Homo sapiens: one gene and its partner. The protein of the gene in region 2 interacts with the protein of the main gene of each other region in a pairwise test. Each region holds a gene or a part of one and is shown on either strand. Other genes may lie near its edges.

Region 1 (7,979 bases), on a different chromosome or scaffold from region 2:
AAGAGACCCTTGGAAAGAAACCTGAGATTCCTCCCCTTGAGAAACAGCCCTAGTCGTCCTCCCCCACCTCGGGGACCAAGAGTCCCTCGATAGGCATCGCGCAATCTGCGCTTGCGCACGTCATCTTGGCTGCCCCGTCCTGTTGCTATGGAAACACCTGGCCAGGAGAGCAAGGCTCGGAGAGACTAAGACCCCGCGCCCAGGGCGCACGCGCTTTCGACCTGCCGCAAAGGGAGCCCCACCGCCTTCCCCGTTCCAGATCGGCGATTGGACCCCGCCTTCTTATAGGCCCCGCCCCGAAGGCTAGGCGCTCCTTCCCGCTGAGACCTTGGGGCACTCGCTGGTCCCCTCAGGCCCCAGCTCGGGTGCAATTAGGAGGAGAACAGATGGCGGCCCAGACAGTGGTTGGGGAGGGTCTGCCCAGGGTTCTGGGGCCCTGGAGGGGAGGGACTCACCTTCGGGAGGAGGCAAACGAGAAGTGGGCGGGGGTGTTGGGGGAGAAGTTTCGGGGGCTGTCCAGGGGACTGCTGCCTATGAGAGAAAGAGGGGGCAAATCCTGTCAGGTCTCTCGTTCCCTAAAGCGGCGTGCAAACAGCAGCATGTCCTGTCTTTAGTCTAGTCCCGCCTATTATGGGGAGACCACGCCCCTTCGCCTGTGGCCCCGCCTCTCTAAATTTTTTCGTTGCCGAGTCAGCCTGGCCCCTTCCAAGACGATTCTGGCTTCATCTGGGATGGCCCCGCCCCTCAGGTACGACTCCTCCTTTCTGTCCGTCCCACCTGAGTCTCCGCCCACCTGAGTCTCCGCCCCCCAATGACCGTCCCTCTGCGACTGACCACACCCACACAAGCATGGCCCCGCCCCTTATCCAAACTGGTTCGCCTCCATTCAAACTGCGCCCCTTCTGTAGCATGACCACGCTTCCTCGCCTGAGGCCCCGCCTACTGTAGGCCAGTCTGCACCCACCAAGTCTCTACCACTGGCCTCACCTAGGTGACCTGGCAGCGGGGAGTGGGGTCTCGGTAGCGTGGGTGAAGTGCTGGTCAGGATGAGGCTTTTCCGATTACTGGTGCGGCAGCTGCGGGGAAGGTAAGGCAGGGGGGCCGGGCCGGGCCGCAGCCCAGTGAGTTCTTGAGCCCCACCAGCTGACCTCCTGTCTCAGATCCCCGCCTATCTCCCATCCATGTGTGTTTGGAGGCTCCCTGGGAGGGTTTCTCGAAGAAAGGTGGTGCAGGCCTCGGCAGGACTGTGTACGGCAGGGGATGTGCATATGACATGTGTGTGAGAAACTCTCAGTATGGATTATGTGTAGGGCAGTGTCTGTCATGGTGTGATAGTCACTGTGTCTAGGTGACACCATTGGTGATACTGAGCGTGTCTCAGTCTATGCGTGACATTCACTGTAGGTATCCACGTGTGGTATCCACTGTATGAATTCAACAATGTGTGACGCTGAATGCATTCTAGTGTGATACGTGTGACACAACGTGGGTTTATCTTGTGTGATACAATTTGAGCATTTGTGTGTCTATGTGACACAGTGTGAAATGCCACTTGTCCATAACAATGTGTGCTGTAACACAGGCAGGTTGTATTATTATTATTTTTTTTCTTTTAAATCAATGTCTCGCTCTGTCGCCCGGCTGGAGTGCAGTGTGCAGTGGCTCACTGCAGCCTCAAACTCCTGGGCTCAAGCAATCCTCCCGCCTCACCTCACCCTCCTGAGTAGCTGGGACTACAGGTGCCTGCCACCATGCCTGGCCAGGATGCATGATCCCCCCTACATGTATCTATGTCTTTGTGTGGCATTCTGAGTCTGTGTCCGATACTGTCCTTCCGTCTGGGTGTGACATTCACCATGCTTGTCCATGTGTATGTAGCATCTATTGTGTGAATTTAACATCTTGTGACACTGTGTCCAAACATGTCACCACATTTGACATTCTCTAGGTGAGTCTTGCAATGTGATAACATGTGATTTTGCGTGGTTCTGTCTCTGCAAGATCCCTACATCTGTTTATCCTGATGTCAGTGTGACATAGTATGTGAGATACCTAGATATGACATCGTGTGTTGTGACATTCTTGGATGCATGGATGGGATATTGAAACACATGTTTGCATCTTGGATGACATAACTGTGTGTGTGTGGATCGCCATGTAAGTGACATCTTACTAGGTGTACACGACGTGGTGCCCCTGTGTGTCTGTGCATGGTTCTGACCTGTGGCAGCTGCAAGGCTAGGTATGTGTGGCACCTCCCAGTGTATCTGGGCCACTAGGGCTGTTGTGTGTATGTGTGTGACATCATGTCCTGTGTGACGCTGTGTGTCACTATTTTCAGTGTAAGGCTGTGTTCGGGGGGGGGGGTTGTGTTATGATAAACCCCCCCTTTTTTCTACCCCTCAGCATCCAGCTCCCGAAGAGGGAGCCCCAAGCCCCTCCGTCCGTCCCCTCACCCACAGCCGCAGTGACTGAGCATATTAGCGCGTCCAGGAGCACGCGGCATGGGGGTGGGGGGAGGCCAGGCTGCGGCTATTGTTCTGAGGGTGCCAAGCCCCCCAGCCTCCCCTTCTTCCTCTACCCCCACCAGGCTGTTGGAGCCCGCAGCGCCAGCAGACAAAGGCGCCACAAACCCCCAGTGGCGCAGCCCCCTCCCCCCGCGGCCGTCCTCTCCAGCGTGCAAGCCCCCCAGACTCGGCCCACACCACCCCCCATTCAACCCCAACCCCGGCGGGAAGGCGCAGCTGGGGCACCTCTGGCGCAGCTGGACCGGGCGCAGCATCCCGGGCCCCGCCCTGCAGCAGTACCCGGAGCGGCGGCTTTTGCGGGGAGGGCCGGGACAATGTCTAGGGGATCGGGGGTCTACCTCTTGGTGCGGCGGAACATACTGCCGCCGGGGAAGGAGGGCATCGAGAAATTAGAAAGCGCGGTCCAGAGAGAGTCAGACATGACCCGGCGGCGGCGACATGGTGGCAGGTGCGGCAGCAGCGGCGGAGGCGGCGGCGGCGGCGGCGCGGGGAGCAAGCGCGCGGGGCGGAGGCTGCAGCCGCCGCAGCGGGCAGGGGAGGGCAGGGAAGGGGAGGGCCCTGCGGCTGCAGCCGGCCGGGAGGGGGCGCTGCTGCGTGCCGGCGAGCCAGGCCCCGCCCGCGCACTCGCCTGGCGCCCCCACCCCGGCGGGAGAAGGGGCGGCCAGCCCCCGCCACGTCTCTCCCCAGGCTCACCTGCTGCTTTTCCGGGGCAGGGGCAAATCCTTCTGGAAGGCAAAGGGGCAAAACGATGAAGGTCAGCGTGGACCTGCCGTTGCTGCCCACAAGCATTATCAACTCCCTGGAGGAGCAGAAGCAGGGTAAGACAGGCCCCTCTTCAGCACTGTCACTTTCACCCTTGGCCATGCACTGCGGGCCAAGTTTCTTGGGGGAGAGGATCCCTGGGTGATTCCTCTCCTGACCCTCAGAGACCAACAGAGGCCCACGTACACAGGCGGGGCGCCATATAAAGGCAAGTGAGTTGGCATATCAGCGTGTGTTTGTGCAAATGAAATAGGAATCATTATTTGAAAAATATGTCTTGAGCACCTACTGTATGCTGACCCAATCCTAGGCACTAGGGACACAGTAGTGAATAAATTACAAGTCCGGTGTGGTGGTGTGCACCTCTAGTCCCAGCTACTTGGGAGGTTGAGGCAGGAGAATCGCTTGAGTCCAAGGAAACACCAGCGTGGGCAACACAGCAAGACTCTCTGTCTCAAGGAGAAAAAAAAAAAAGTTTCTGGCCTTTTGGGACTAGTATTTATAGGGTAAAGGGGACATTAAACAAGATTAGTGTAGAAGTGAACGAAATCATTTTAGACAATAATTAGTCTTATGAATAAATTAAACAGGGTGATGTGATGGACAATGGCTAGGATGGAGACACATTGTCAGACAGGGCTGCTCTGTGGAGGTGACTTTTAAGCTGGTTGCTGAAAGATAAGAGCCAGCCATGGGAGGATCTGTGGAGAGAGCATTCCAGGTGGAGGGAACTGCAAGGGCAAAGGCCTGGAGGCGGGAATAAGCTTAGCGTACTCAATGAATGAATGAAAGGTTGAATGAATGAAAGGTTGAAAGAATGAATGACTCATCTACACCTCAGCAGATCTATCTGACTCCCAGCTAGAGTCATAGAGTTGGGGTAGGGGGTGGGGGGTAGGTAAGTAGAGTGACTCACAACTGAGATTTAAAATGGGAACCACGGAGGCTGAGGTGGGAGAATCTCTTGAGCTCAGGAGGTCGAGGTTATAGTGAACTATGATTGCACCACTGCTGGAGTAAGACACCCTCTCAATTAACAATAAATAAATAAATAATAAAAAGTTTAAAAAATAAAAAAATAAAAATGGAAATTCAGGTGATGGCCGCATAGTCATTTTTTATAATGACAATAATAATAATTAGTGAGTATTAACTTTATGTGTCTGCATTTGAAGAAGGTCACCTTCCATTTGTCAAGCTCTTAGGAAGTCACTGTAGGGATCAGGAGATATGGGGTCTTGGCTTTTTTCTGAGGAAAGGAATGGGGTACAAGGGGCAACACCTGCCAGCCAGTTTTCTATCCACAGGGTGAGGTGGAAGGAAGGAAACTGAGTGGGGCTGCAGGTGGAAAGATTTGGGGGAGAGTTTCAAAAGGCCTTTGGAGGGGACTCCAACAAAAGGAAAATGAGGGATGTCCTAGACATTTCTAGGATCTCTAAAAGCAAAAAGCCTAGGTTCAAATCTCAATTCTGCTTTTTATGACCTTGGCAAATGACCTTCCAATAGTCCCGTGTCTCCTTGAGGATCTTAGGAGTTGATGCAGATGCCTAGCCCCTTAGCATGGTGCCTAGCACATAGCAAGTGCTCAATAAATACTAAGTCTGGAGAACAGGCGTTATTAAGGAGGGACATGCTGCATGACAGAGGATGGGCCACAGCGTCCTCCCACCCCGTTGTACAACGGACAAACATATAGGCGGGGCCAAAGGGCAGCCCTGCCCTCCCGAGCCACGGGTGACCGATAATCCAAACCAGGTTTTCCCTCTGTCTTTGCATGACCGGAGTGAATGAGGACCAGTCGACCTGGCTGCGTGTCTGCAATGGCCCAAGCGAAATCAAGACCTGGATTTTCTGGCCACAGAGCCCAGGGTGTCCAGATCCGGGTAACCGGCCTTGGAGGGTAAGCCCCTGGAGGGCTTTTAAGCACCACCCGAAGAAGACCTGGAACCCAGCCCCACCCGCTAGCGCCCCCAAACATTCTAGGGACGAAGAAAGGGTCAAACTGGAGCGGCGGAAGTTCGGGTCTTTGGCGTCAGTGTAAACAGACGCCACCTCCAATCTCAGCTGCAGAGCCGCTCGGCCAAGTGGATTCCGCTTCTCCCGCACAGGATTAATAGTTGACACTGCAGACAGGGCATTCGAACTCAGGATGCTGTCTACATATAAGATCCCAGGGCGTGGTGGCTCACGCCTGTAATTCCAGCGCTTTGGGAGGCCGAGGCGGGTGGATCACCTGAGGTCAGAAGTTCAAGACCAGGCTGGCCAACATGGTGAAACCCACTCTCTACTAAAAATACAAAACTAGCCGGGCATGTTGGCATGAGCCTGTAATCCCAGCTACTAGCGAGGCTGAGGCAGAAGAATCTCTTAAACCCGGGAGGCGGAGGTTGCAGTGAGCCGAGATTGCGTCACTGCACTCCAGCCTGGGCAACAGAGCGAGACTCCGTTTCAAAAAAAAAAAAAAAAAAAAGAGCCTAGCTGCACACAGGGGACCCTCGGGCGCTCAGCAGTGATGCGACAGTTCCTAAGAGGATGCACCAACGTATGTGGGTGTATCCAGGCAGCGAAGTGGTTAATCCCGCCAGAAGGGAAGCGGTGGGGACAGGACTCCGACAGGGATCGCCGGACCCAGAGCAAGCCTGGGGTTGAGTGGGTGGGTGGGTGAGTGGAAGCATTCCGCGTTGGGGGCGGTGTCTCGAGCGGGAGTTTAAAGTCCCGCGTGGCGCTGAGCCAATGAGAGTTGACGCCGGCCTGGAGGGCGGGGACACACCGTGCAGGCCCCGCCTCTTTCCTCCCTTTTCTCAGAAACCCGACGGCGCGGACCCAACCTGGCTGCTGCAGTACTTGCTCTAACTTTGCCGCAGCTGCCTCCCTTCTCTCGGAACCCACTCTCCTAACCCACCCCCGAGAGGCGGAGAGAATGTGGGAGCACTTCAGAGAGGCCTAGGCTCCGGAGATCGGGCCATCTGGGCTCTGAAAGCAAATTAGTTTTCCAACTCATGTCTGGCTCCGGCGTTACCCAGACGCCTGGAAGGTCCTTCCTGCAGTCTGATCACCATTTTTCCTGCTGCACTGACCAATCAGCTCCCCTTGGCCTTCAACCTCGGGAATGATGGATTAGGGGAGTCTAGAAATGGACGAAGCCCTAGGTGAGGGTTTGAATCCTCTTTTCCCAAGATTCAGGCTGGGGATGGAGCCTGAGTCTGGGCCCATTCTCGGCTTTATCTAAACTCCAGATTACCAAGCCTGGGGCTGAGCCCCAAGGAGGCTCAGAAGGGCCAGACCCCAGGCAGGGCCTTGGGGCACAGATATCATCACCTTCCCCTCTGGGATGTTTGGGACCGGACCTCCGTATTAACCCTGAACTTCCGTACTAACCCCTCAGAAACGCAGCTGAAGACGAGCAGAGGACGCTTCTCGGCTACAGAATCCCTCCCCACCTTGGAGGTAGGAGCTCCTGACACCTGAGTTTGTCCCCGCCTTCCCCACACTCCACAGCGATCCTCAGTGTCCCACTCCGTGCAGTGGACGCACGGCTCCTGCGCCTGCGCAGCCTCGAGACCAGCATCTTCTAAGGCTGCAAGGAGCTAAAAATCGCTCCCGCCCACCCACAAGCTGGGCTGGACTTGAGGATCGCGGTGGGGGGGCGGATGTTGTAGTGGAGGAGGTGGAATGAAGAGTGAGAAAGCTGTCTAGGTGCCTGTCCAATTAGGGCAGTAGGAAGAATCCTGATGGCCAGGCAGGTGCGTGGGGGACGCAGGGCGTCCTATGCCTCGGGAGGGGGCTCCTGGGGTGGTGAGGGGCGAGGTTGCCGCACAAACATGTTTACGCCTCCAGCGGCGCCGATGGCCCCGAGGGGCATGAGCCCTAGGGCAATAACTTTGCTCTGCGCCCCCTCACCCCTAGCCTGGCGAGGCGCCAGGGCGATGACTTCGGCCCCAGCCCCATCCCCCTAGGGCGGGCCAGGCGCCCCTCAGGCGATCCTCGAGGGGGAGCGCTAGGCTGCACCCCTCCGGCAGCTCCCTGGATCGCCGGGCGGCGCCTGAGGGGCGGGGTCCCCAGCGCGGCGGGACGCGCGGCCACAGCGTTCCCCGCGGTTAGCGTCCCGAACCTATGGGTGGGGGCGTCCCGGCTGACCCTAGTGCAAGTTCTCCCGCCTCCTGCCCAGCCCCGCCCCAGGGCGCCGACCCCTTCCTCTCCACCCGGGGCCCAGGCAGCCGCGTACCTGCAGCCTCCGGCGGCGGATGAGGCCCGAATCGTCCATGGCGGCAGCGGCGGCGACTTCGGCCCGGGGAGGGAGGAGGGAGGTAGCGGCGGCGGGAGGAGGGAGGAGGGAGGGAGTGAGAAGCCGCGGGGACCGCGGCGGCGGCGGCGGCGGCGGCTGAGGGGAGGGGTGGCGGGGGCGGGGGCGGAGCGAAGTGGGGCGGGCCCGGCGCCGTCACTGCGTCTGGGCGCCCGAGCCCGGGCTCAGCCACCGCTGCCCGCGCTGGCGGGGGGAAGGGGCGGGCGGGGGGGCGGAGCCTCCTGGTGCCCCCATGGGAGCCAAGCTGCCGAGAGACCACTATAAAAAGAGACACCCCAGAGGAGAGATATTCTCAGGGGTAGAACCCTCAGTCAAGAAACACCCCAAAGGAAGCCTTCTCCCTGAGATACATTCCCTCTACATTCATCCCCCAGAGACCCCCTTGG
Region 2 (7,019 bases):
TACATAAACATTTGTGGTTCTTTTGTCACAAAACTCATGATTTTCAAAATAGGATGAATTGTACTGCAGCCTACAGTCATGTTTCTTTAACTATAGATGGTGGTGATGAATAAAATAAATGGCTCTCCTTAGGAGCCTTGAAAATGACTATGGTTTCTCTGCACTGTGAGAGCGACATGTGCAGCACCTGGGCAGGCGTGAGGGGTGGACTTACTTTGTGGAACACATGGGAGCATGAAAGCAGCACCTGTTCATGAGGAAACAGAACGACGTTGAAGTTTACAAAAGAGAAGCAGCATGTATCCAACAGTTAAAATCCTGAATGCTTAGAAGGTAAGCTGTATTATTTCTTTAAAAAAGCAAATTAATAACTTTGATATTTATACTATTTATTGTTTGTTTAGCACAGCACAAGTATATACTCTAAATAACAAAAATTCATGATCTGAAATATCAAATAAACACATGAAGTTTGATATTTAACTATTAAAATGAGTGTATACTTAAGAGCGAAACAATGACAAAATGAAAGTTTCCCTTAGATGCGGGCAGTGACTGCAAACTGGAGGGGTGAGGAGGGGGGCCTGTCCAGTGGGGCCAGGGAAACGCTAAGTAAATACCATTTAGGTCTTTGTTCAGCTCAGTTATGCCCCCCAATTTTTGTGAAATCATAGCTCTACTGAGATATAATTCTGACAGTCTTAAATTTAAATAGCAACAAATCATGGAGTCTTTTTTCTTTTTTAAATGCAGGGAAAGTGTGCTCACAAGAAAACTTCACCTTTCTGTGACCCAAATTCCCCACTAAACAGTGATATACTGGGCTGTGACAAAAGACTGAAGCTTAGACCAAATGAAGAAGAAGGCAGTGGGTACTTAGTAGAAGGGACAGCCGCCAGCCCACCAGCGCCAGGCCCTGCGGGCTGCCACACAAAGGCCAGGCTCCTGCTTCCCTTGGGAGGGGCTGCTTTCAGCAACGGGGAGGAAAGCAGGGGAAACTTGTGAGACTGAGCAAAGCGGTGGGGTCAGGCGAAGGGTTTTCCCTTTTTGTCAAGAATCTGACTTGGGTGACCACAGTCTGGGGCACTCCTGGGTGAGGTTTCAATCTCAGCCGGCCCAGGATGCCTGCTGTGGGGAAAACTTAACAGTTTTTAAAGTGAATCCCACCTGCCTTCACTCAATGTATGCTTTTCTTCTTAAATGGAAGAAATACAGAAATAACTAGAACTCAGAAAGTTGTAAAACCTTTTCTTGAAACTTATTGCCAAGAGTAAGTCTGAATTGAATAAACTCAGTAATAGGGTCCTTTTTCATTACCACCATTTAATAGCAATCTTTTCTATACTTAATTCATTCTTTATAGAATACTTTTCAGTGTTTTATCAACATATATTCTATCTATATGGAGCAACATTAGACGTCAGTATATTAAAGTGTTATCTTTTTAAGTGTCCCCAAATATTTGTTATTGGCAAACATTCTCTGATGTAACAAAAATCAAGGATTAAGTAGTGGAAAACACACTAAAAATGGCCTAGAAGTTAGGATTGGATTCCAGCAGGACTCTGATACTTTCTGCGTCGGCCTACTATGAGTCATTTGAATTGTTTTTATTCCCTCATCTGCTAAATGGGCAGAATGCCTACTATACGGAATTAATTGAAGGCCCTCTGAAATCACTAAATGTTATAAAAATGCCAACTATTGTTTATAACTAAGGAAAAATCTGAACATGGAAATGATCACTGGAAATGCAAAATATACAGGATGGGTCTTATATCAAAACCAAGTAAAAATAATGGAATTTAGTGAGAAATTTATAAAAATCAGAAAGAAATGTTGGGCAGGGTACACCCTGATCCCCATAAGATAGTAACTTTCACTTTTCATTCTTCATACAGACACTCGGGTTGGATATTTTAGTATAAGTAAGAAAGAGGGTGCTTAGCCAGAAAGACACCCTCTGGCTTTATTCACAGTTTTGCTACATTAAATTACTAAATTATCCTAGACAATTTGTGGTTTCAGGGCTAAAATCTGTCCAAAATACCCAACTTTCACATATGTAAGATTAGGTCCTGATAGAGAACTGGAATATAATAAGTATGTCTAAAGTAACTTATGAATTCAAATTAGTGAATAGAAGTGTAACTGTTGTGAGCTTTCTTGCTGATGAAACCTACTCAAATTCAATGAAGACTCAGAGTTCATTTGCCCAGATTGTAATAAGCCTGGGTTCCTAGGCTACAAACTCCAAGGCTGATTTTAACTGTATTTGCTGTGTTTTCTCAGCAAATCTCTGAGGGCCTGCTATGCAGGAAGCGTAATGCCACACCACGTGGGAAATTGTTACAGGGCAACCACGCACGCACGTGCACGCACACACACACTTCTGATAAATCTAAGTGTCCCCAACTTCAGGGGACAATAGTTTAGTTAGGCAGACAAAATATGTATAGAAAAAACCCTATATGCATTCTCTCTCTCTCTCTCTATATATATATATGCATTCTCTCTCTCTCTCTGTGTGTGTGTGTGTGTGTGTGTGCGCGCGCGTGTATATTATCTGTTAACCCAGAGTAGTATCATCAGTCTTACTATGGTAAAGTTTCATGAATAAAAATCATTAAAAGATTTTACTTTTCTTAAAGATTCTCTCACAAATTCTTTGGAGACATTCAAGCACAGTTTTTTTTTTCTTTTCTGACTCAAATCACAAAACCACTTAAGAGTCCCTCTGCTTTCATCCTTCCCGCGCTGGGACACAGCTGCTCCTGGGAAGCCCCCCAGTTGTCTGCACAGCCGCATGGGGCCTGTTGAACAGAAACATTCCTTTTGTACAAACTTTAGTACTTGAGAATACCAGTTAGTAAACAAACAAAACTATTTAATGAGGGTGTTTAGCTCTTCACACACTTTAATTAATGGAAAACAAAATGGAAGTGTGTGAGGCTCACACAGGAGGATGAAACTGGAAAAAGGAAGCTTGGAATCTTAGGCTCCAGCTCTGGGCCTCGTCCCTAGGAAACAGCCCAGGAGCTCTCTAGCTCACCCTCGTATGCTAAACACCTGAGGACGAAGCTCGAATTCTTCTTTACAGATGGGGCATGGTTGCACGGAGTCCCCTTGCAGGAGAGAGCGCTGTTTCACCTTCTCCCATTCATCTGATGACAGTGGAGGTGGTGGAGGCCCAATGAGGCCCAACTTCTGTGCTAAAGTAAGACAGCACAGGACAGGAGTTAGAGTGTCTTTTAGCATATGGCACCCACCTATAACTTTAATGACACCATTTGCAAACAAAGATTAAAGAACTACATATAGATCACATACTTTATTTCACAATAGAAGCTGTCCATTGGTATCCACAGGGAATGTGTTCCAGGACATTCCAAGGATGCTCAAGTCCCTGATAGAAGATGGTGGAGTATTTGCATACAACCCATGCATATCCTCCTGTATACTGCCAGTCATCTCGATTACCAATAATTCCTAATGCAAGTGCTATGTAAATAGCTGTTATACTATATTGTTTTTAATCTGTATTATTTTTATTATATTGTTGTATTGTTATTTTTTATTCATTTATTAAAATTTTGATCTGTGGCTGGTTGAATCTGTGGATGCCAAACCCACGGATACAAATGGTGGACTGTATATAGGATGCCGTTTTTCTATGAGGGCGCAAAAGTCAGTGGTAATAATACCTGACATTTTCAATACGTTTATTTTTTATTTACAAAGCATTTCCCATATCTTATTTCATTTCCCAATAACTCAATAAGGCAAGCAGGAGTGATATCCAAGTTTATGAAAGAAAAACTGAGGAATACTCATTGTTCACACGTATTGGCCCAAGTTTCTCCCAGTTCTCACCTGCCTCAGCCCTCAGCCTTCAGCACTGCCTCTCCCAGCTCACCTTGCTCTGCCACCAGTGGCCTCTACATCAATCTGCACCTCCCCTGCTAAAAACTTTCTATGACGTATCATCACGGTCAGAATAAAGTTCTTATTTCAATAACACGTGGGTACCCACCATGTGCTGTCTCGGCATCGAGCTGATAGTGCGGTGGGAAACACTCACTTTGAAAAAGCAACTGCAACATCCTCAGGCAAAATGCAGGAAGCGAAGTTCACCTTCCACCACCTCCCCGCACCCCAAAGACGGGTCAATGCATAAAAAAGCATCGACTTACAAGGATATCTTCAGAAATGGAAGACAAAATGTTACATCGACAAAACATGACAGAAAACTATGAAGGGACACTTTCGAGTACAGAAAGAGCTCTTGGGCTTTTAGAGTAGAAATGTGAACGTCCACTGAAAGGCTGGAAGAGAAAGCTAAGATACAGTCCTGAGATGCTTAACAACAGGCGATTGTTGTTAAGAAATGTGCTGTTAGGCGATTTCGTCATCTTGCTAACATCACAGCATATGTATACATGCTTAGCTGGTACAGCCCACCACACACCAAAGCTACACGGTACAGCTGATTAGACTACACACCTGCACAGCATGTTACTGTACTGAATACTGCAGGTAACTGTAACACAATGGTAAGGATCTGTGCTTCCAAACATGGAAAAGGTATAGTAAAAATATGTATAAAAGATTAAAAATGGTGTACCTGTGTAGGGCACTCACCATGAATGGAGCTTGCAGGCCTGGAAGTTGCTCTGGGTGAGTCAGTGAGTGAGTGCTGAGTGAGTGTGAAGGCCTAGGACATGACTGTACACCACTGTAGACATCATAAACAGTCTACACTTACGCTACACTAAATTTATAAAAATATATTTTCTTTAATAATAAATTAAAGTTAGCTTCCTATAACTTTTTTACTCTCTAAACTTTTAAATTTTTTACAATAACATTTAGCTTAAAACAGTATGTTGTCCAGGCTAGCACGTAGTGATGTGGTCATGGCTCACTGCAGGCTGTGTCTCCTGGGCTCAAGCTATCCTCCCACCTCAGCCTCCTGAGAAGCTGGGACCAAAGGCACACAATACCATGCTCAGCTAATTTTTCAGTTAATACAAAATATTTTCTTTCTTATCCTTATTCTATAAGCTTTTTCTATTTCTCAAATCTTTTTTTTTTAACTTTTTTGTTAAAAACTAAGACACAAACACACATATTAGCCTAGGCCAACACAGGGTCAGAGTCATCAAGACGTCATGAAGTGGTAGGAATTTTTCAACTCCATTATAATTTTATGGGAGCACTGTGGTTTATTGTTGATTGAAACATTGCTATGTGGCACGTGACTGTAATCTCACAGAAAAACATATATCAGGAGACAGAAAATAAGAAAATCAAGGGACCGGTCTAGGTGTTGTTGTGACATCTGAAAAACTGGCATTTTAGAAAGAAAACATGGAAAATGGGGAGTAAAAATTTTAAAGAAAATAGTCCAAAACATCTCCCAGAAGCAAAGGACATGAGCTTCTGGTTTGAGAGGGCCCAGTAAGTACTCAGAACATCGAATCCCGTCACTGTGAGAATCTCGGAGACAGAAAGCAGACTCAAAAAAACAGGCCTCAAAAAAGGATCAGGAATCAGAACTGCATCAGACTCATCCACAGCACAACAGACAGGAGAAGACAATTCCTTCAAAATTCGGAGGAAGGAAAGATTTCCATATCAAGATTCCTTATTAGCTATCAATCAAATGTGAGAAAAGAGCAAAGACATTGTTACACATGTGAGCTTCTGTGTGGGTCTCCTCCGCACTCCTCCAGGGAGCTACTGACAGAGAAGCGTCGCCACTACGAGGGAAGAAACCAAGGAGGAGGCCGCCATGAGGTCCAGGGAGACAGAATCCAAGGAGAGAGCCCAGGGTCCCGGGATGCTGCTCAAGAGGGAGCCCGGGGAGGGGCCGGGGGAGGGGACCACGGAGGATTCCAGAAGCAACGTCCCCATTGATAAAGTGCCCTGGTATATTTTAATGTATTGAGATAATGTATTTCTGGAGGAGATTTTAGGGATGAATCAGTGATGAGTGATGATAGAGGAAACTAAAATGTGAAAAAATGAGACAGAACTTCAGGTAGAATAGAAAAATGTCTGAGAAGGAAACTGTAATATAGAACACCACATTGCTCAGCTGTGAGTGAAGTCACGGAATTGTAACAGAGTAAACACTGAATGTTATTAGTCTAACCACAAGTTATGAAAACAATATGCTAAATCTCGATCTTCTGCAGTAAGAAGAGATATCCAGAACTGAAAATTAACAAAACAGCAGCGTAGACATGTTATTTAGAATTATTAAAAATATGGCTGGGCATGGTGGCTCACGCCTGTAATCTCAGCACTTTGGGAGGCCGAGGTGGGTGGATCACCTGAAGTCAGGAGTTCGAGACCAGCCTGGCCAACATGGTGAAACCCCGTCTCTACTAAAAATACAAAAATTAGCCAGGTGTGGTGGCACACACCTGTAATCCCAGCTACTCAGGAGGCTCAGGCACGAGAATCGCTTGAACCCGGGAGGTGGAGGTTGCAGTGAGCCGAGATTGTGCCACCGCACTCCAGCCTGGGCATCAGAGCAAGACTGTGTGTCAAAAAAAAAAAAAAAAGAAATATTAAAAATAATACCAGAAGAATGAACCAAAGGATTTGAAAATGGCTGCCTTAGAGTAATGCCCAAAATGGGTCAGGGGAATGCTACACTTTCTGTTATAATCCTCATAGAACAATTTTACTTCTAAAACTATGCCCATGGATCTTCTGATAAGAATCAAGCAGCTACAAGTGTGATGAACGCTATGGAGAATGGTGTGCAGGATGCATGGGGCTGTGACCCCAGAGAAGGTTACTTGACCAAAGTGGCATTAAATGGAGACCCGCAGGGTTAAGAGTAACAGCAGCAGGTGAAGGGGGAGGTTTTCTAGATGGAGGAAAAGGATGTGCAGATGGCCATTAGTGAGAGAGCACCTGGCCTGCAGAGAAACAAATGAACAGTAAGACTGAAGAGGCTGAGACTGAGGTTGCGGAGGAGGGGCGCTGCCTCAGGGCAGCTCTTT

The links. Proteins that work in one complex are often made in the same cells at the same time.
Region 1: the proteins of RNF32 (region 2) and MAST1 interact in a two-hybrid assay, tested with the Homo sapiens proteins (one study listed by BioGRID).

What each region holds. Positions count from the first base shown.
Region 1 is NC_000019.10:12,833,543-12,841,521, reverse strand, and holds the start of MAST1 (microtubule-associated serine/threonine-protein kinase 1), read right to left. Parts: upstream 3,008-7,979; 5' UTR 2,950-3,007; coding exon 2,867-2,949; intron 1,077-2,866; coding exon 988-1,076; intron 532-987; coding exon 456-531; intron 1-455. Other genes in the region: RTBDN (retbindin), read left to right, coding at 6,424-6,439, 6,676-6,737. UniProt on the Homo sapiens protein: Microtubule-associated protein essential for correct brain development. Appears to link the dystrophin/utrophin network with microtubule filaments via the syntrophins. Phosphorylation of DMD or UTRN may modulate their affinities for associated proteins.
Region 2 is NC_000007.14:156,650,769-156,657,787, reverse strand, and holds part of RNF32 (RING finger protein 32), read right to left. Parts: intron 3,604-7,019; exon of another isoform or gene 3,213-3,603; coding exon 3,070-3,212; coding exon of another isoform or gene 3,053-3,069; intron 2,651-3,052; exon of another isoform or gene 754-2,650; intron 334-753; exon of another isoform or gene 248-333; coding exon 215-247; exon of another isoform or gene 97-214; intron 1-96. UniProt on the Homo sapiens protein: May play a role in sperm formation.